Linked DNA regions of Homo sapiens. The protein of the gene in region 4 interacts with the protein of the main gene of each other region in a pairwise test. Each region holds a gene or a part of one and is shown on either strand. Other genes may lie near its edges.

Evidence for each region. Proteins that work in one complex are often made in the same cells at the same time.
Region 1: the proteins of MAL (region 4) and CALN1 interact in binary tests that used the Homo sapiens proteins (3 or more experiments, as listed by UniProt).
Region 2: the proteins of MAL (region 4) and KCNA10 interact in binary tests that used the Homo sapiens proteins (3 or more experiments, as listed by UniProt).
Region 3: the proteins of MAL (region 4) and CLEC4C interact in binary tests that used the Homo sapiens proteins (3 or more experiments, as listed by UniProt).

The regions. Positions count from the first base shown.
Region 1 is NC_000007.14:71,810,303-71,814,926, forward strand, and holds part of CALN1 (calcium-binding protein 8), read right to left. Parts: intron 191-4,624; coding exon 34-190; intron 1-33. UniProt on the Homo sapiens protein: Negatively regulates Golgi-to-plasma membrane trafficking by interacting with PI4KB and inhibiting its activity. May play a role in the physiology of neurons and is potentially important in memory and learning.
Region 2 is NC_000001.11:110,516,181-110,521,241, forward strand, and holds KCNA10 (potassium voltage-gated channel subfamily A member 10), read right to left. Parts: upstream 2,996-5,061; 5' UTR 2,608-2,995; coding exon 1,072-2,607; 3' UTR 1,037-1,071; downstream 1-1,036. UniProt on the Homo sapiens protein: Voltage-gated potassium ion channel that mediates K(+) permeability of excitable membranes.
Region 3 is NC_000012.12:7,733,340-7,737,963, reverse strand, and holds part of CLEC4C (C-type lectin domain family 4 member C), read left to right. Parts: intron 1-389; coding exon 390-535; intron 536-4,624. UniProt on the Homo sapiens protein: Lectin-type cell surface receptor which may play a role in antigen capturing by dendritic cells. Specifically recognizes non-sialylated galactose-terminated biantennary glycans containing the trisaccharide epitope Gal(beta1-3/4)GlcNAc(beta1-2)Man.
Region 4 is NC_000002.12:95,027,921-95,032,544, reverse strand, and holds part of MAL (myelin and lymphocyte protein), read right to left. Parts: intron 1-4,624. UniProt on the Homo sapiens protein: May be involved in vesicular trafficking from the Golgi apparatus to the cell membrane. Plays a role in the maintenance of the myelin sheath, and in axon-glia and glia-glia interactions.

The DNA.
Region 1 (4,624 bases), on a different chromosome or scaffold from region 4:
GACCGGGGAGGGGATGGCAGCAGGGGCACCTACCTCCTTCAAACTCTGTTTGGCAGTTCCCCGAGGTCTCATTCAGGCTCTCTTCCTCATTGATAATGATGTTCTCAATGTCCTTCATCGTTAGGTGGTCTCGGAAGGCATGATAGAGAATGTGCTTCAACTCTTCCAGAGTTATCCTTTGCATGTCAAACTGTGGAGATAAAGAGTAGTGAGATGGTCAGAAGCATGTGGAGATGGGAAGTTGGCTCGGGCCATGACAGGCCAGACCCACAGCTGCTCTGCAGAAACTTGTCTCAGCGTTTCAGGATATCAGGTGAACAGTTTTCCATCCTGTTCAGCTCCAAGTATACTCATGAACTTGCAGGGACTTATTGGAATGATAGAGAGTGGAACATATTCCCTTCGCTTTAGCTTCTTGGAGAAAAAAAATGCCACCCGCCAGTCTGGTTTCCTATTCATCCAGCCATCTGCTGTCAACCCTGCATACTTTGTGTACTTTAGAATGGTGAAACCCTTTATATAATGCATACGTCTCTAAAATTTTTATAATTTACCAACACTCTGGCAATTCCCATATTGGTTTAAGCATGTATCTTTTTTTTTTTTTTTTTGAGATAGAATCTTGCTCTTTCGCCCAGGCTGGAGTGCAGCGGCGAGATCTCGGCTCACTGCAACCTCGCCTCCCGAGTTCAAGCGATTCTCCTGCCTCAGCCTCCGTAGTAGCTGGAATTACAGGTGCCCGCCACCACGCCCGGCTAATTTTTTTGTATGCTTAGTAGAGACGGGGTTTCACCGTGTTGGCCATGCTGGTTTTGAACTCCTGACCTCAAGTGATCCGCCCGCCTCGGCCTCCCAAAGTGCTAGGATTACAGGCCTGAGCCACCACGCCCGGCCTAATTATGTATCGTTTAAAAAAAAATTTAGAGACAGGGTCTTGCCCTATCATCCAGGCTGGAGTCCAGTGGTGTGATCATAGCTCCCTGCAGCCTTGAACTCCTGGGCTGAAGCCATCCTCCTGCCTCAGCCTCCCAAGTAGCTGGGATTACAGACATGAGCCACTGCGCCTGTCTAACATTTACAATTTTTTGTAGGGACAAGGTCTTGCTATGTTTCCCAGGCTGGTCTCAAACTCCTGGCCTCAAGTACTCCTGCCTTGGCCTCCTGAAAGTGCTGGGATTACAGGTGTAAGCCACTGTGCCTGGCCATGAATCTTGTTCTAACAAGATAAAAACACAAGTTCAAAGTCATGTTCATGAAGAAAAGCTGCTGAAGGAGAGGTGCAGAGTTCCTGATTACATCCTGCCCCTCCCCGAGAGAGGACTGTACTTTTCCACTCCATTTATATTAGGTTTGATAGTGTCGCTTTCTTTTTTCTTTTTTTTTTTTTTTTTCCGAAATGGAGTCTTGCTTCCATCTCGCAGGCTGGAGTGCAGTGGCGCGATCTCGGCTGACTGCAAACTCCACCTCCCGGGTTCAAGCAATTCTCCTTCCTCAGCCTCCCGAGTAGCTGGGATTACAGGTGTGCACCACCACGCCCAGCTAATTTTTGTATTTTTAGTAGAGACGGGGTTTCGCCATGTTGGTCAAGCTGGTCTCGAACTCCTGACCTCAGGTGATCCACCCGCCTCGGCCTCCCAAAGTGCTGGGATTACAGGTGTGAGCCACTGCGCCTGGCCAGTAGTGTCACTTTCTTGGCCAATAAAATGTGAGTAGAAGTCACATCTACCACATCTAATTCACAGCTTTATGAATCATTGTGTGGTTCTAACATTTGTTCTTTCCCTCTGCTATGAGAATTACATGCCCCAGATAGAGGCTGTTCCTTCGGGCTGGGTCTCAGAATGAGGATAAAGTGGGGAACACCTACAGCTGAATCACAATGGACAGCTCACGTCAGGAATACCCTGTGTTGTTATGAACCATTGAGATTTGGGGCTTGTTTGCTACGGCAGCATAACTTAGACCATTGTTGGTCTATGTCAAAAATAGAGAAATTGGTACATAAAACTAAGAGGCTACCATAACCAAAATTCTAAAAGACAATGTACTGGTTCCGGAGCCAGGCAGTGAAAAATGAGAAAACTGTGACTGGAGGCTGGAAAGACACAGATCCCTGTAATACGATAGCAAAACATTTGGTAAAACTGTTGCCTGTGATACCTTGGAGGACAGGCAGATATTGAATCCGAGTCCAGTGGTTTTAGGTAAAAAGTCTGTGAAACAGAATGCCGTGATTCACAATTGAAATTAGCTGCATCTAACAGAGCACTACAAGAAAGAGATGAGCTCAGGAAAGAACTGGTTGATTTGCAAGCCAAAAATAAAAACCACTCAGAAATTCCTGGCGTTGCAGCATTGAAAGAAGCAATTGTTTCTTTTTTTTCTCGTAATGATCTTGTTATCTTCCTATCCACACATTTCTCAAAGCCCCCATTTCTATTTCTAGTTCTATTTTTTTAGAGACAAGGTCTTGCTCGGTGGTCCAGGCTGATATGCTGTGGTGTGATCACAGCTCACTGCAACTTCAAACATCTGGGCTCAAGTGATCCTCCTGCCTCATCCTCCTAAGTAGTTAGGATGACAGACATGCACCACCATGTCCAGCTATTTTATTTATCATCATCATCATTATTATTATTATTATTATTATTATTATTATTATTTGAGATGGAGTCTTGCTCTGTCACCCAGGCTGGAGTACAGTGGCGCAATCTTGGCTCACTGCAACCTCCACCTCCCGAGTTCAAGTGATCCTTCTGTCTCACCCTCCCAAGAAGCTGGGATTACAGGCACACACCACCACACCTAGCTAATTTTTGTATTTTTAGTAGAGACAGGGTCTGGCTATGTTGCCTGCCTCAGACTCCCAAGAAGCTGGGATTATAGGCATGTGCACCACACCTGGCTAATTTTTGTATTTTTAGTGGAGACAGGGTTTCACCATGTTGGCCAGGCTGGTTTCGAACTCCTGGCCTCAAGCAATACTCTGGCTTCAGCCTCCCAAAGTGCTGAGATTACAGGCACTGCACCAAGAGCAATTGTTTCTCATCTCCAACTAGTAAGAGATAAAATAAAGAAATGCTTTAAGTAATAATACAGCCCTATTGAAACAAATCAATGCCTCTTTAAAAAAATCTCTGAATGTGTTAAGTGACTCTCCTAGGAAGCCTGTTATTAAGTTTAGAGAGAGGTATGTCTCAAAAATAATTGTGGATGTGTTTACTAGCATAACTGATTGGAGCCAGATAAAAACATAACTAAGTCCTTGAGAGCTATACTGGCCAAGAGCCAACAATCTTGGATTAAAAGACACTATAACTGTTCCAAACTTTAAAAGATCTTTGGGGCCGGGCGCGGTGGCTCACGCCTGTCATCCTAGCACTTTGGGAGGCCGAGGCTGGCGGATCACAAGGTCAGGAGATTGAGACCATCCTGGCTAACATGGTGAAACCCCGTCTCTACTAAAAAATACAAAAAAATTAGCCGGGCATGGTGGCGGGCGCCTGTAGTCCCAGCTACTCAGGAGGCTGAGGCAGGAGAATGGTGTGAACACGGGAGGCGGAGCTTGCAGTGAGCCGACATTGTGTCACTGCACTCCAGCCTGGGTGACAGAGCGAGACTCTGTTGCAAAAAAAAAAAAAAAAAAAGATCTTTGGACTTCCCAACCTACGGGCCCAAGCAATTAAGAGGATAAGCTACACGGGTCCCAGGAAGGGTGTATTACACAATGCCCTCATAGAGTAAGTACAAGAATAGTGGAAAAGGACAGCTTTCCTGGGAATCTTGGAGAACAATGTCATCCAGGGTCACTTCTAGGAAGCAGAAGCAGCTAATTGAGGGAAAATTCCTCACCCCAAGGTTTTTGTCCAACAGGGTTTCAGAACTGCTCTGAGCCTCTGACCGCTATGGGTATCCCATGTTTTGCTTTCCAGAGGGGAATGTTTTTGGTGGTTGGCCTGACCCTGGTCCACCACCATATGTCAAGTGTGTGTTTGTGTCGGGCAAGGGTGAGGGGTAATTTGACTTTTTAGTTTTTATGTTTCCATACCAAGAAGAGCCACATCCAGATTTGATGAGCATCATGAGATTCTAGAGCTTGAGTCTGGTGTTATAACTGGATGGGACTGTTGGGAAGTCTCCCCTGGGGAGGGGAGGAGTATATTTTGCAGCTGAAGAGAGGGAAATGAATATTGATGAGCAAGAGTGTGGACTGTAACAGGGTCTATTATTTCCAGCTATAATTGAGCCTTGAAAAACATGGGTTTGAACTGTGTGGGTCCACTTATATGTGGATTTCCTTCTCCCTCTGCCATTCCTGAGACAGCAAGACCAACACCTCCTCTTCCTCCTCCTCCACCTACTCAAGGTGAACACCATGAGGATGAAGACCTTTATGATGATCCATTTCCAGTTAATGAACTTACTTCCTCCTCTTTATGATTTTCATAATAGCATTTTCTTCTCCCTAGATTACTTTATTGTAAGAATGCAGTGTACAATACATATAACATACAACATATGAGTTAATCAACTTTTTTTTTTTTTTTTTGAGACAAAGTCTCGCTCTGTCCCCCACCCTGGAGTGCAGTGACGCAATCTTGGCTCACTGTAATCTCCGCCTCCT
Region 2 (5,061 bases), on a different chromosome or scaffold from region 4:
ACAAGTGCACTTTCCTGGAGCAGTTCTCTAGGGCCCACAGTTCCCACACTCAGGATCCCCAGTCTTTGTGTAACTCCATGGAGATGAGCCAGGTGAAAACATCGAGGGATGTTTCTGCTTGTCCACTATCCAGAAAAGGGGCTGAGGAGCAAGGGGTCAGGGAGATGCTGCCTTCCCAGGCTGTGAGGAGATCCTGAAGCATCCGGGGAAGGGTGTCTCTGCCCAGAGGTTTGCTGCCTGGACCCTCTGAAAGTCCCCTCAAACTCCTCTCACCTTTCCCCCAATTCTGACACATCTTCTTCATTAGTGGAAAGGGCACTGGGCTAGTAGGTAGGAGATTTGACAGCATTGACTATATCACTGTTTCTGGGTGACCTTAGGTAAGTTGCTCTCCCCTGGTTTGTTCACCTGTAATGTGGGAATAATAATCAAATCAAATAATAATCAAATCTGATTATTCTAAGATGCAGTGAGATAATGTAGGTGAAAGTGTTTTTGGAAAATTTATGCAGTGCTACACAAGTACAAGGTATTATTATTATTGTAATTGAATAACTCTGAGCTCTTCCTCTTTGCTCACAGCAACCCTTGGTCTTTTCATATGCTTCCTCGTAGGAAGACCAAAACCAGTGCTTTTAAATCTTTAATATGCAAACGAATCACTTGGGATCTTGTTAAACTGCAGATTCTGATTCAGTAGGTCAGAGTAGGCCTAGATTCTGCATTTTCATCCTCCCGGGTGATACCAGTATTTCTGGTCTGGGGACCTGAACTATCCCTTCATAGGAAAAGAGATCCAAATCTTTCTATAATGTATTGAAAAGAAACAGTTTAGAAAATACAGTAGAAGTATGGGCTTATTAAAATAGCTTGTAGTCAAAGATAGTTATTGATCACAAAAGATACATTTTGATCTTTGGAAAGATGAAATGAGAGAAGGGAGAGGGAAAGAGGAAGGAATGAAGGGAGGAAGGGAAGGCAGAAGGAAGAGAGAGAGGAGGGGAGAAAGCGAGAGAGAGAGAGAGAGAAGAGAGAAGAGAGACAGGATGGACCCAAGAAGCCCTGGACTGATCATTTCCTAGACTTCTCTGTGGAACAGCCACCATTGGTCTTATTAAGAGAGTCTGTGCTGCCCATTCTTGAGCCTACACTGTTGAGGATTCTTTCAATTTCTCCTGGGATGTTCTGCTTTTCTTCATTCTCAGTCTCCCGGTGGTAGAAGTAATTGAAGTTGGAGACAATGACAGGCACAGGGAGGGCAATGGTGAGGACCCCTGCAATGGCACACAGAGTGCCCACAATCTTCCCCCCTGGGGTGGTCGGGCACATGTCCCCATAGCCTACAGTTGTCATGGTGACCACTGCCCACCAGAAGCCATCAGGAATGCTAGAGAAATGGGACTCTGGCTCATCCACCTCAGCAAAGTAGACTGCACTGGAGAAGAGGATGACTCCAATGAAGAGAAAGAAGATGAGCAACCCCAACTCCCGCATGGACGCCTTCAGTGTTTGCCCGAGGATCTGCAGCCCCTTGGAGTGGCGCGAGAGCTTGAAGATGCGGAAGACCCTCACCAGGCGGATGATCCTCAGGATGGCCAGGGACATGTTCTGTTGGGCACTCGGCTCTGTCTCCTGGACTAGCTCTGTGATGAGAGTTGCAAAGTAGGGGATAATGGAGATGATGTCAATGATGTTCATGATGTTCCTGAAGAAGTCAGTCTTGCTGGGGCAGACCACGAACCGGAGCACCAGCTCGAAGGTGAACCACACGATGCAGGTAGACTCCACCATGAAGAAAGGGTCGGTGAACATGGTCTGGGAGAGGACTGTCTTGCTCATGTTGAGATTGGGGTCTCTGACCACCTTTAGCTCCCTATCCTCCCGGAACTCTGGCAGTGTCTCCAGGCAGAAGATGGTGATGGAGATGACCACAACCAACACCGAGACCACGGCCACAGCACGGGCAGCGCTGGAACTTTCAGGGTACTCAAAGAGGAGCCAGAACTGACGGTGGATGTCATTGGTGGGTAGCAGTGTTTCAGGGTCTTTGATGAAGCCTTCATCCTCCCGGAACTGGTCCATGGCCTCACTACCCAGCTCATAGAAGGAGATTTCATCAGCAAAGATATCAATGGGAACATTGGCTGGGCGCCGAATTTTCCCACCAGATTGGTAATAATATAGGATTCCATCAAAACTGGGCCGGTTCCGATCAAAGAAATACTCATTTCTCATGGAGTCAAAGAACTGCATCCTTTTTTCCCGGTCTCCCAGGAGAGTCTCTGGGAACTGACTAAGGGTTCTGAGCTGGGTCTCAAATCTCAGCCCAGCAATGTTGATGATCACCCGCTGGTTTCCTTCATTTAGGACCACTGGCTCAGGCCCTGGGGGGTCAGCATAGTCTCCCGGAAGCTTGGAGAAGGCCGTCTCATGGTTGGTGCTTTCGCTGATGAGGATCTTCCCGTTGGAGAAGGAGCTGCCCCCAGGCCGGCCTTTTGGGCTGGTTGAGTCGAAGTCTGTGGCATAGCCTGGCTCTTCTTGGATTTCATCTGAATTATCAAAATTGACCAGCGCAACCTCCATTTCTTTCCAGCCACACACATCCATTCTAGGGGAGCCAGGGAAGAAGCATGAAGATCCTCAGCCTTCACTGCCTGCTGTGAGCTATGGAGAAGAAGAAGTTCATTATACAAGATCCAGGGCAGAATACAACTGGCCCTTGTTTATTGAGGTAAGGTACACCAATGGGCTAATCAATGACTTATTTGTAGCTTGGGAAGGAACGTCATGGTTATTTTGGCAGCATGCTTCCCTTAAAATCATTTTGTACCCCTGAGTTTGCATAAACTAATAACTAGGAGAAATTGCAAAAAAAGGATCCTGGCAAAGAAGGGGAGATTCTCCCCAGCAAAGGATGGTCTCCATATGTGATGGCAGAGGGGCCATACTAAAAGAGGAAGTTAACATTCCTTAATAATAAAAAGCATGATCTTGTATTTGCATGAAGCCTTCTGTCTCACCAAACACGTCTCCATGCCCAATCTCATTCGTAATGCCTCTCTTTCACACCAACAGCCAGTCCCTCACACATCCTTTTGGTCATGTCTTCAAAATATATCTAGAATTCAACCATTTTGCATCACTTCCACCCCTGCTTCTGGACCAAGTGGTGAAGGGTGGAACCAGATCTATGAACCCAATGGGGATTCTTTAGGGAAGGAAAAACAAGACGCTGGGTTGGCCAATCGACAATGTCCTCTAAATGACCCCTCACCTGGAAATAACTCCTAGAGTTGTTTTGAAGGTACCTCAAATGAGATAACACGTATGGAATGCTTGGTGGAAAGAAAGATCACTATATTATAGCTATTGTTTTTTGTCAACTTTCCCACATAACAAGCACTTTAGAAACTACCAGCAATTGGAATTTTTTTTGGCCTGAGTCCAAGGTGTCCATAGGAAGTAATTTCATTTTGAGAAATCATTTTAGGTGGGAAGGAAGTAAATAATTGTGTGTGTCTGTGTGTGTGTGTGTATATGTGTGTGTGTGTGTGTGTGTGTGCGCGCGCACGCTGGAGGTGGGGTTAGGAAATCATGCCCAGTGGGCTTGGACATCTATACACATAGACTAATATTTCTTTCCTCAGGTTCATTCTAGCTTCAGTTTCAATTTAAGAACACTGAACCCAGGCAGGCTGGGGGTGGGAGTGGGAGAGAAGTAAGGGACTTAACCTCAGGCAAAATCTGTAGTGGTCACAGCCTTGGAGAGGTTTCCTTTACAGGCGACAAGGCTATCCTGCAGTGTAGTGTTGTAGTCTTTTCAAAGTGATTCCACATTCACTTATCTCACTAGATGACAATAATCACGTGAGGTTAGATGTTATCTCTGTTTTGCAGATGCGGAAACCAAGTCACAGGGACAAAGTGACTTCCTAAGGTCACATAACTAGTGCTACAGAGTCCTGACCTAAACCTGGCCATGGCCTTCTGGCCCAGGGCCTTTCCCACTAGACCATGGAGTCCCTATATAGGAGCTGAGCCTTGTGGGGAGCTGTAGGCTAGGGCCACAGAATTGTCAGGGGTCCAGAGCTCTTTCCATCCCATGACCCCTTTTCTCAGTTCAGGTGCCATGTGTTGAATGATGAGCTCAAGTCTGGTTGGTCAGCACTGGTAGAGTACCCATTCTACCTCTCAGGAGTATGTGGCCATTGCAAACGGCCTAATTTCACGGAGCTGCTGCTTCCTCAGTTGTGGAATGAGGAAGGATGTACCCACTGCCAAGCATGCCAGGTGCCAGCCTGCTCTGCAAGGCTCGGTGAGCAGTAGGATGGCTGGGAGGCAGGATGGAATCTGAGAATAGAATCAGTCCACCCGAGTTCAAATCCTGGCTCTGTACATGGTAAAGCCCTGGAGAAATGTAGCTTCACAGTAATTCGCATGATGATTTGGGGGCCTTGTCCTGAACTGCTTGGCAGCTGGATGGCTGTGGGTGGGGGACTCCAGCTCTGTGTTGATCTCATGTCTTCGGAGCACCATTTTCTCCTTTGGGGTCTTGGACCGCAGATGGTGCTCCCTGATGATTATCTTCCAGGTGTGAATCAGTCCCGCTTTCTGAGAGGAATGAGTACCATCAGTGAGCTTTGGGCAAGGTTTGGGAACCACTTCCATGGTTCTAGCCAAGGCTAGAGTGACCCTTATCAGGAACTTCTCTGGAGGCCAGCAGCAGAAAGCATTTGGGGATTAGGGAGAGCTTCTTTGGCCAAATAATTAACTTCCTTTTTTGGGAGCCAGGCCATTTCCCTTCTCCCTGCCTCCTAGGTTCCTCTTTGTCACTTCCACCCCCAGGTCAAGTGACAGGTAGGAGGGTGTTTGATGAGGGTCTGATGGTGAGGAGGTGGCAGACAGTGCCAAGGTCAAACAGCATATTCCGTGGTCTACAGAAGTGTGCTGTGCAGGCGGCTCCACCTGCCCCATTAGTAGCAAATGTTAATCATTAAAACAAAGAGAAAAGAGAACCGTCTTGAGGACAAGGACCTGGTGTGAGGCTCTGCCCCACCACTT
Region 3 (4,624 bases), on a different chromosome or scaffold from region 4:
TAAGGCATGGGCCAAACTCAACAAGCTGCCTAGTTTTGTAAATGGCATTTTATTGCCATACTCATGTTCTTTTTTTTTTCTTTGGTAACATATTGCCAGTGGTTGCTTTCGTACTGCAGTAGCAGAGTTAAGCAGTTGCAACAGAAACCGTATGGCCCAAAAAGCCTGAGATATTTACTATCTGGCCTTTTGCAGGAAGTTTGCTGGTCCCTGTATAGAGTGAAATGATCTAGGGATTAGTAAATACACCAGTAAATGAGTTCAGCTTTGGAAAATCCGTGGAGATCCATAGGTGAAAACTAATTAAACCTTAGCAAGCTAAGCTTATAACTTTATGTGAGGAGAATTCTCTGTTAATATTTTTTCTTCTTCTATACTCATTTGGGAAGATTGGAGCTGCTGCCCAACCCCTTGGACTTCATTTCAGTCTAGTTGCTACTTTATTTCTACTGGGATGCAATCTTGGACTAAGAGTCAAAAGAACTGTTCTGTGATGGGGGCTGATCTGGTGGTGATCAACACCAGGGAAGAACAGGTATGTTCTAACAGGCAAGGTGGTCAGCTAATCTGTTTCCTTTCTTAACTGATAAAGAGTCTTTTTATTGCCCTGAAAGTTCAAAGACAGGAAAAAAAAAAAAACTTCTGGGTAAAAAAAAACCCAAAAAACAAAAAACACAGGAAAATCTCCTTAATCTGGAACACTCAAAAATGACTTTTATTTTTATTTTTTTTGGGGGGACTGTCTCCTTTTGTCACCCAAGCTGGAGTGTAATGGCACGATCTCAGCTCCCTGCAGCCTCCGCCTCCCGGGGTCAAGTGATTCTCCTGCCTCAGCCTCCCAAGTAGCTGGGAGGATAGGCATGTACCGCCACGCCTGGCTAATTTTTGTATTTTTAGAAGAGACGAGGTTTCACCATGTTAGTCAGGCTGATCTTGAACTACTGACCTCAAATGATCCACCTGCCTCGGCCTCTCAAAGTGTTGGGATTATAGGCGTGAGCCACCATGTGTGGCCAACAATAACTTTATTTTTTATTTTTATTTATTTATTTATTTATTTTGAGACGGAGTCTTGCTCTGTTGCCCAGGCTGGAGTGCAGTGGCACAATCTCAGCTCACTGCAAGCTCAGCCTCCCGGGTTCACACCATTCTCCTGCCTCCCAAGTAGCTGGGACTACAGGCACCTGCCACCACGCCCGGCTAATTTTTTTGTATTTTTAGTAGAGATGGGGTTTCACTGTGTTAGCCAGGATGGTCTGGATCTCCTGACCTCGTGATCTGCCCGTCTCGGCCTCCCAAAGTGCTGGGATTACAGGTGTGAGCCACCACGTCTGGCTAACAATAACTTTAATAAAACAAATTCCGGAGCAAACTTCAGGCAAACATTGATGTTGAAATTTGATCCTGAAGAATTTTAATTTTAAAAATATAAGAAAAAAAATTCAGGCAAATAAAATAGTGAATTTGAAAAATGGAAAAATGATATTAATATTTGCCATCTAAGAAATGTCAACCAATTAAACATTAGTCCTTCATACTGTATCCTCTGCATTTCTTACCTTCTTTTCAACATTTTCCATCTATTTTTCTCTTTGTACTTGATTTTAAACAGTTTCTTCTGTCCTTCTATTCCAGTTCACTAATCTTCTTTTTGTTTTTGAGACAGAGTCTCACTCTGTTGCCCAGGCTGGAGTGCAATGGCGCCCAGGCTGGAGTGCAATGGCACGGTCTTGGCTCACTGCAACCTCCGCCTCCCAGGTTCAAGCGATTCTCCTGCCTCAGCTTCCCGAGTAACTGGGACTCCAGGTGCGTGCCACCACACCCAGCTAATTTTTGTATTTTTAGTAGAGACGGGGGTTTCACCATGTTGGCCAGGCTGGTCTTGAACTCCTGACCTCGTGATCCACCCACCTCGGCCTCCCAAAGTTCTGGGATTACAGGCGTGAGCCACCACACCTGGCCCTCCCACTTGACTAATCTTCTTCAACTATGTCTATCCTGCTATTAAAGCCATATATTAACATCTAAATTCAATTATTGTATTTTTCAAATCTAGAATTGATCTTGCTTCTCTTTCAAATATGCTGTCAAACTTTATAATGTTCAACACTTAAGCTTGTTTTTTTGCTGTTACTGGTTTTTGCTTTTTTTTTCTTTTTTTTGAGATGGAGTCTTGCTCTGTCGCCAGGCTGGAGTGCAGTGGCTCGATCTCAGCTCACTGCAACCTCCACCTCCTGCGTTCAAGCGATTCTCCTCTCTGTCTCCCGAGTAGCTGGGATTACAGGCGACCACCACCACACCTGGCTAATTTTTGTATTTTTAGTAGAGACGGGGTTTCACCATATTGGCCAGGCTAGTCTCAAACTCCTGACCTCGTGATCTGCCTGCCTCGGTCTCCCAAAGTGCTGGGATTACAGGCGTGAGCCACCGTGCCTGGCCGTTTTTTTTTTTTTTTTTCTTTGAGACAGAGTCTTGTTCTATCGCCCAGGCTGGAGTGCAGTGGCAAGATCTCTGCTTACTGCAACCTCTGCTTCCTGGGTTCAAGCGATTCTCCTGTCTCAGCCTCCTGAATAGCTGGGATTACAGGCGCCTGCAACCACGCCCAGCTAATTTTTGTATTTTTAGTAAAGATGAGGTTTTACCATGTTGGCCAGGCTAGTCTCGAACTCCTGACCTCAGGTGATCTACCTGCCCCAGCCTCCCAAATTGCTGGGATTACAGGTGTGGGCCACTGTGCCCAGATCTTCTTTTTTTATTTTTTTGAGACAGAGTCTCTCTCTGTCACCCCAGGCTGGAGTGCAGTGGTGTGATCTCGGCTCACTGCAACCTCTGACTTCTGTGTTCAAGTGATTCTTCTGACTCAGCCTCCTGACCAGCTGGGATTACAGGTGCATGCCACCGCTCCTGGCTAATTTTTGTATTTTTAGTAGAGACAGGGTTACACCATGTTGTCCAGGCTAGTCTCAAACTCCTGGCCTCAAGTGATCAGCCTGCCTCGGTCTCCCAAAGTGCTGGGGTTATAGGCCTGAGACACCATGCCTGGCCTATGGAATGTTTCAAATTATCCTTGTGTGATGGATGTTGTACTTGAAAAATTATTTATAAAAATAATTGGAGGCCAGGCACGGTGGCTCATGCTTGTAATCCTAGCACTTTGGGAGGCTGAGGCGGGTGGATCACCTCAGGTCAGGAGTTTGAGACCAGCCTGGCCAACATGGCGAAACCCTTCTCTACTAAAAATACAAAAATTAGCTCGGCATGGTGGCACATGCCTGTAATCACAGTTACTCGGGAGGCTGAGGCAGGAGAATCACTTGAACCCAGGGGGCAGAGGTTGCAGTGAGCCAAGATCATGCCACTTCGTTCCAGTCTGGGTGAAAAAGCAAAACTGTCTCAAAAAAAAAAAAAAAATTGGAGGCCTCAGATATTATTCTCTTCCAAAGAGTATTTTCATTTGCTTTTGCCACATGCCTTGGCACAAGTCCTACAGTACATTATGGCAATTTCAGGGCTTGAAATTTCTACAATATCCAAATGATTCAAAGCCAGATCATAATCTATATGAGGTCTGATTTACTGCCTATTTACCCTTACCTCTTTCTTGGCTCTGGACTCTAATTTTTGCCTAACCGTACAAAGTTTTCAAAAGTGCTGTTCATCCTGTCTCCCCAGCCATGTTGTAAACTTTTATTTGTTTTGACTTCTTATGCCACATTTAGCACAGGGTCTGGGCAGACAATAGACTGCTTGAATGTTCAATGAATGAATGAATAGATAAATTGATATGGCGGAGAGGGAGGGAAGCACACAAACCACTAACAATGTCTCGTATATGTTCATGTACATTCAAAATAATCTGAAAACCTATGTCAAAATATCTTTTCTTGTTTGTACAACATTATTTGAGGCCTGGCGACGTGTTTCATGCCTGTAGTCCCGGATACTTGGGTGGCTGAGGCAGAAGAATTGCTTGAATCTGGGAGGTAGAGGTTGCAGTGAGCCGAGATCATACCACTGCACTCCAGCCTGGGTGAGAGAGCAAGACTCCATCTCAAAAAGAAACAAGTAAAACAAAACAAAATATATGACGGCTGGGTGTGGTGGCTCACGCCTGTAATCTCAGCATGTTGGGAGGCGAAGGTGGGCAGATCACTTGAGGCCAGGAGTTCAAGACCAGCTTGGGGGCCAGGTGCGGTGGCTCACGCCTGTAATCCCAGCACTTTGGGAGGCTGAGGCAGCTGGATCACAAGGTCAGGAGATTGAGACCATCCTGGCTAATATGGTGAAACCCCGTCTCTACTAAAAATACAAAAAATTAGCAGGGCATGGTGGCGGGAGCCTGTAGTTCCAGCTACTCGGGAGGCTGAGGCAGGAGAATGGCGTGAACCCAGGAGGCGGAGCTTGCAGTGAGCCAAGATCTCGCCACTGCACTCTAGCCTGGGCGACAGAGCAAGACTCAGTCTCAAAAAAAAAAAAAAAAAAGACCAGCTTGGTCAACATGGTGAAACTCCATCTCTACTAAAAATACAAAAATTAGCCAGGTGTGGTGGCATACACCTGTAGTCCCAGTTACTCAGGAGGCTGAGGCATGAGAATTGCTTGAACCCAGAAAGCAAAGGTTGCC
Region 4 (4,624 bases):
GGAGGGTACACCCTCTGGGGTGTCCTATCAGCACCTGTCCCTGAGGCCTGCTGGTCCAAAGCACCATGTCCGGCACTGACACTGGAGGGGCCAGGAGGAAGCCCTGGAGTGGCTTAAGTCAGCCCCCAGCCCCTTCTAGTTCAAGTCTGGCTGGCTCTGTCCTGTGTCAAGGCAGGTCCCAGGTGGTCCAGTCCCTACTCCCAGCCCCTTCTCTGGAGAATGTGTCTGGGCCCAGGACAAAGCCAAGCCACTGCTAAGGCTGTGCAGAGCTAGTCTGTGCTGGCAGCACAATATGCTCTGCCCCTCGCCTGCTGGTGTGGCGAGTATAGGTGCAAAATTCAGCCCTTGTCCCTGGCCGACCTGAGTGTGAGCGCTGCTGGCAGCAGCATCGTGGGGCTTCCTACTCACTTCTGAAAGCACTGGGACAGAAAGGGTGCCTTTGCACCAGTTCTGGCATTGCCCCATCCCTGTGAGGTGGGGGAGTGACTTATGAAAAGCTAAAAGGCAATCTTTTAAAATATAGCTCAGGTGTGATGACACATGTCTGACAATCCTGTGGAGATGAGCCCCATCATCACACTTAGCAGTTTCCAGGGAGCAGCTCAAAGTTACTGAGTCCTCACCAAAGCCAGCCTCTGGTCTTGAAAAACCAGAAAAGTCACTTCTCCACCAAACCCCTGTGAAATCTCTGTCTAGAACACTTCTCCTCCCTTTAGAGAGGAAGAGAGGAGAAAACACGGAAGATCAGGCAGTAGCCCTCTCTAAATAGCTACAGAGAAGGGACAGAGCCAGGAGCCAGTGGACACAGTCAGAGAAGGCCAACTCAGCCACCATCCCATTCTGGCCAAGCGGGGCCTGCCCCACTCCCTGGTGCCTGTAGGAGAGGCTCCTAGCTAGCACAGCAGGGAACTTTCTCCAGAACAGAGGAGGTCCCTGGTCTGACTTGTGAGAACCTCAGAGCACCTGGCTGCTTGCCCCAGCCTCTCCCTGAGAACTGTTCCCACTATTCTATCCCCCATAAAAATATCAAGAGGGTGGCCTGGCCTCGAGATGTCCGCTCCAAGTCTCAGCCAGTCAGTGGAGGGTGTGCAGTGCAATGCGGGTTCTTCAACCTGCCCTGGACCTCGTGACTCAGAACCTGCAGGGTGTGTTTTTGACAAGGAGACCCAGAGGAGGTGTGAGCTTCCCAGTGGTCCTGAGCTGTCCCTTCATTCCTGTTGGGGGAGAGAAGGGACCAAGCCTTGCCCAGAGCTGCCAGGTGGGCAGGGCTGCCTACTCAGGATCCCAGTGTGCCTTCTAGTGCAAGCAAAATCTCGTGTGGCTGATTAGGTGAAAGGAGAAGCCTGGGCATGATCTGCTCACTGCCAGAAGTGCTCACTGGACCCTGGAGACCCGGTGACCCAGGCAAGTTGCTCCCTGTCTGAGCCTCAGTTCCCTGCCAGCTCTGAAAGTGAGGTTTCTGTCATTCTACGTCTCTGGTCTCCTAGGAGTTCCCATGCCACCTTCTCAGTGCAGCCACAGCTTGGACCACCTAATGCGAAACTGCCTCGCTGGCCCATGGCCCAGTCCCGGCTCTGTCGGGCTGGCTATTCCCCAGCCAGGTAGAAATCTAGCAGAAGTCCCCAGACCTCTCTGGTCACTCTTAATAACAGTCCAGTCACTTTGGGTCACAGAAAAGGTGTCATTTTAGTCATTACTCTGTCCAGTTCACTGTAACTGTCAAAACTGCAAACTGATTGCGGGTGTCTCCCCACCCCAACCCCAACCCGTGATGTGACTGCACTTCTGTTCGTGTTTCTGAGGCACAGAGGAGGAAGGGCATGCCCCTGGAGGGCTGGGCGGCATTCCTCACACCCTCACTCACAACCCTGCCTCCTTTGTGGCCTGGGGAGGAGGGGGCTGAGTAGATGATCTCACAACCCTCTTCAGGCACTTCCTTCACAAGTCCTGAATGGGTAGGGGGTCTCTCCTGGCACTCTGTGGGAGACCTCGCATCTGGGGGCCCCAGCTGAGACAGAAAGCCTTCCCTGTGAACCTTTCATTCCCTGAATGGTGGCCCAGTGTCAAGGAAGTCCCTGGCTTAGAATGGAGACGGAGACAGAGACAGAGAGTGGCTCCAAAAGGAAAAGTTCCTCACTGGGTGGGACTTTTGCAGGGGAGCAGACGAGAAGCAAAGCCCTGGGTTTTGTTGGAGGAGGGGAGAGCATTGGCTATTTCACCCTTGGCCTATATGGGGCTGCACTGATGACCACACCACCTGCAATAGGGGCACAGCCTCTGTGGCTCTGGAGGTATTTGGAAAGGCAGTCTCACTTCCTAGTTGGGCCTGCCTTCCTCTTCCTGTGAGGACTCTGCAGCTTTCAGAGGTCAGGAGGTCTGGGATAGGGGTGCTGGGCCAAGGAGAGGTTGCTATGCCCCACCCTGAGCTGCCACCCTCACTTGCTCCAGTGGGCAGTCCCCTCACCATGGAAGTGGCGCTCCACCCGGATCAGCTTGGACATCTGCGCCTCCCAGGCTGTTGGGAGGTCAGGCATGGGAATCTGAACTATGAGTCATCAACAACTCAGTGGACTACAGATTTAAAAAATAATCAAGCATTTCACACCCATTGGACTAGCAGAAAATTATAAAGTCTGACGCTACCAAGTGATGAGGAACAATGGCGACTTTCATGTGCTGCTGGTAGGGGCCGGGGAAGGTCCAGGTTTAGCCTGAAGCTTAAACAATCAGGAGGACCATCTTTATAAGAGAATACAAAATTAGGCAGAGTCTTGGAAGGGGCTTGAGTAAGTAGGGGTCTTGAACTTAATTAAACATCAGCTTCCCAGTAAATCTGCTCCTGGGGTGTGTAAATTGGAATTACTCTTTTGGACGGCAATGTGATAACACCTGGGAAAATGACAATGTGCATATCCCCTGTGACCCAACAAGTCACATCCTCCAAGTGTCTCTGGGAGACATTTCCAACAGGTAACTACAGAGGCAAATATGAGAATGTTCTTAGCAATGCTGTCTGCAATAGCTAAAGGCAGCAAATTGGAACTATCCAAAGTGTCTATTAACAGAAGACTGGGTAAACAAAGTCAACATGTATAAATCTCAGAACATAATGTTGCCTGGAAAGCATGTTGCAGAAGGATACGTACTGTATGCTGGCATTTTCATAAAGTGCGAAAACATGTAAAACAATGCCATGTGTAGTTCATATGTGTGCAGTAAAAGTCTAACCTGTGCTTGGAAGTGAACACCACATTCAGCCTACAGGTGGCCCTGAGGACGGAGGGAGAGAGAGAATAAGATAACAGAAGGATGTCTAGGAGGCTTAGATGCCATCTGAAAGCTTCATTTCCTTAATACATAACAGCAAACAAGGCAAAATATTAAGATTTGACAAAGTTGGGCAATAATTATGTAGGTGTCTGTTAAAGTATTGTATATGTTCTTCTGTGGCATTTGAAATATTTCTATTTTTTGTTTTTTAAACTTGAGGTGAAATTCACATATCATCAAACCAATCATTTTAAGTTGACAGTTCAGTGGCATTTAGTACATTCATGGTGTTGTGCACCCACCAACTCAATCTAATTCCAAAGCATTTTCATTACCCCCAAAAAGAAACCACATAGCGATTAAACAATTGCTCCCCTTGGTCCCTGGCAAACCACCAGGGTTTGTGTTCTGTCTCTATGGATTTATCTATTCCAGTATTTTATATAAACGGAATCATACACTATATGACATTTTGTGCCTTGTGTCTTTTGCTTAGCATAGAGTTTTCAAGGTTTATCAACTTTGTAGCACGTATCAGTACTTCATTCCTTTCTATGGTCAGGTAGTATCCATTGTTTGGATATGTCGCACTTTGTTATTCAGTTCATTGCTGATGGCCACTGGGCTGTGTGTTATTGTGAAGACTGCTGCTATGAACATGCATGTGCCAATACTAAAGTCCCTGCTTGGAATCCTTTGGTTATATACCCAGGAGTGGAATTGCTGGGTCAGAGGGTAATTTTTTGAGGGAACACCAAACTGTTTTCCACAGTGGCTGAACCATTTCACATTCCCGCCAGTGGCATACCAAGGGTTCCAATTTCTCCACATCCAATACTTGATGTTTTCCGTTTTTTGGATAGTAGCCATCCTAATGGGTGTGAAGTGGTATCTCATTGTGATTTCTTTCTTTCTATTTATTTAATTTATTTACTTATTAATTTATTTTTTTGAGACCGAGTCTCACTCTGTTGCCCAGGCTGGAGTGCAGCGGCATGATCTCGGCTTACTGCAACCTCTGCCTCCCAGGTTCAAGCGATGCTCATGCCTTAGCCTGCTGAGTAGCTGGGACTACAGGCATGAGCCACCCAAGCCGGGTTTTTTTTTTTTTTTTTTTTTTTTGTATTTTTAGTAGAGATGGGGTTTCACCATGTTGGTCAGTCTGGTCTCGAACTCCTGACCTCAGGTGATCCACCCACCTCAGCCTCCCAAAGTGCTGGGATTACAGGCGTGAGTCACCGCAACTGGCCTCATTGTGGTTTCAATTTAGTTTTCCTAATGCCTGATGATGTTAAGCATCTTTTTATGTGCATATTGGCCATTTGTGTATCTTCTTTGTAGAAACCTCTGTTCA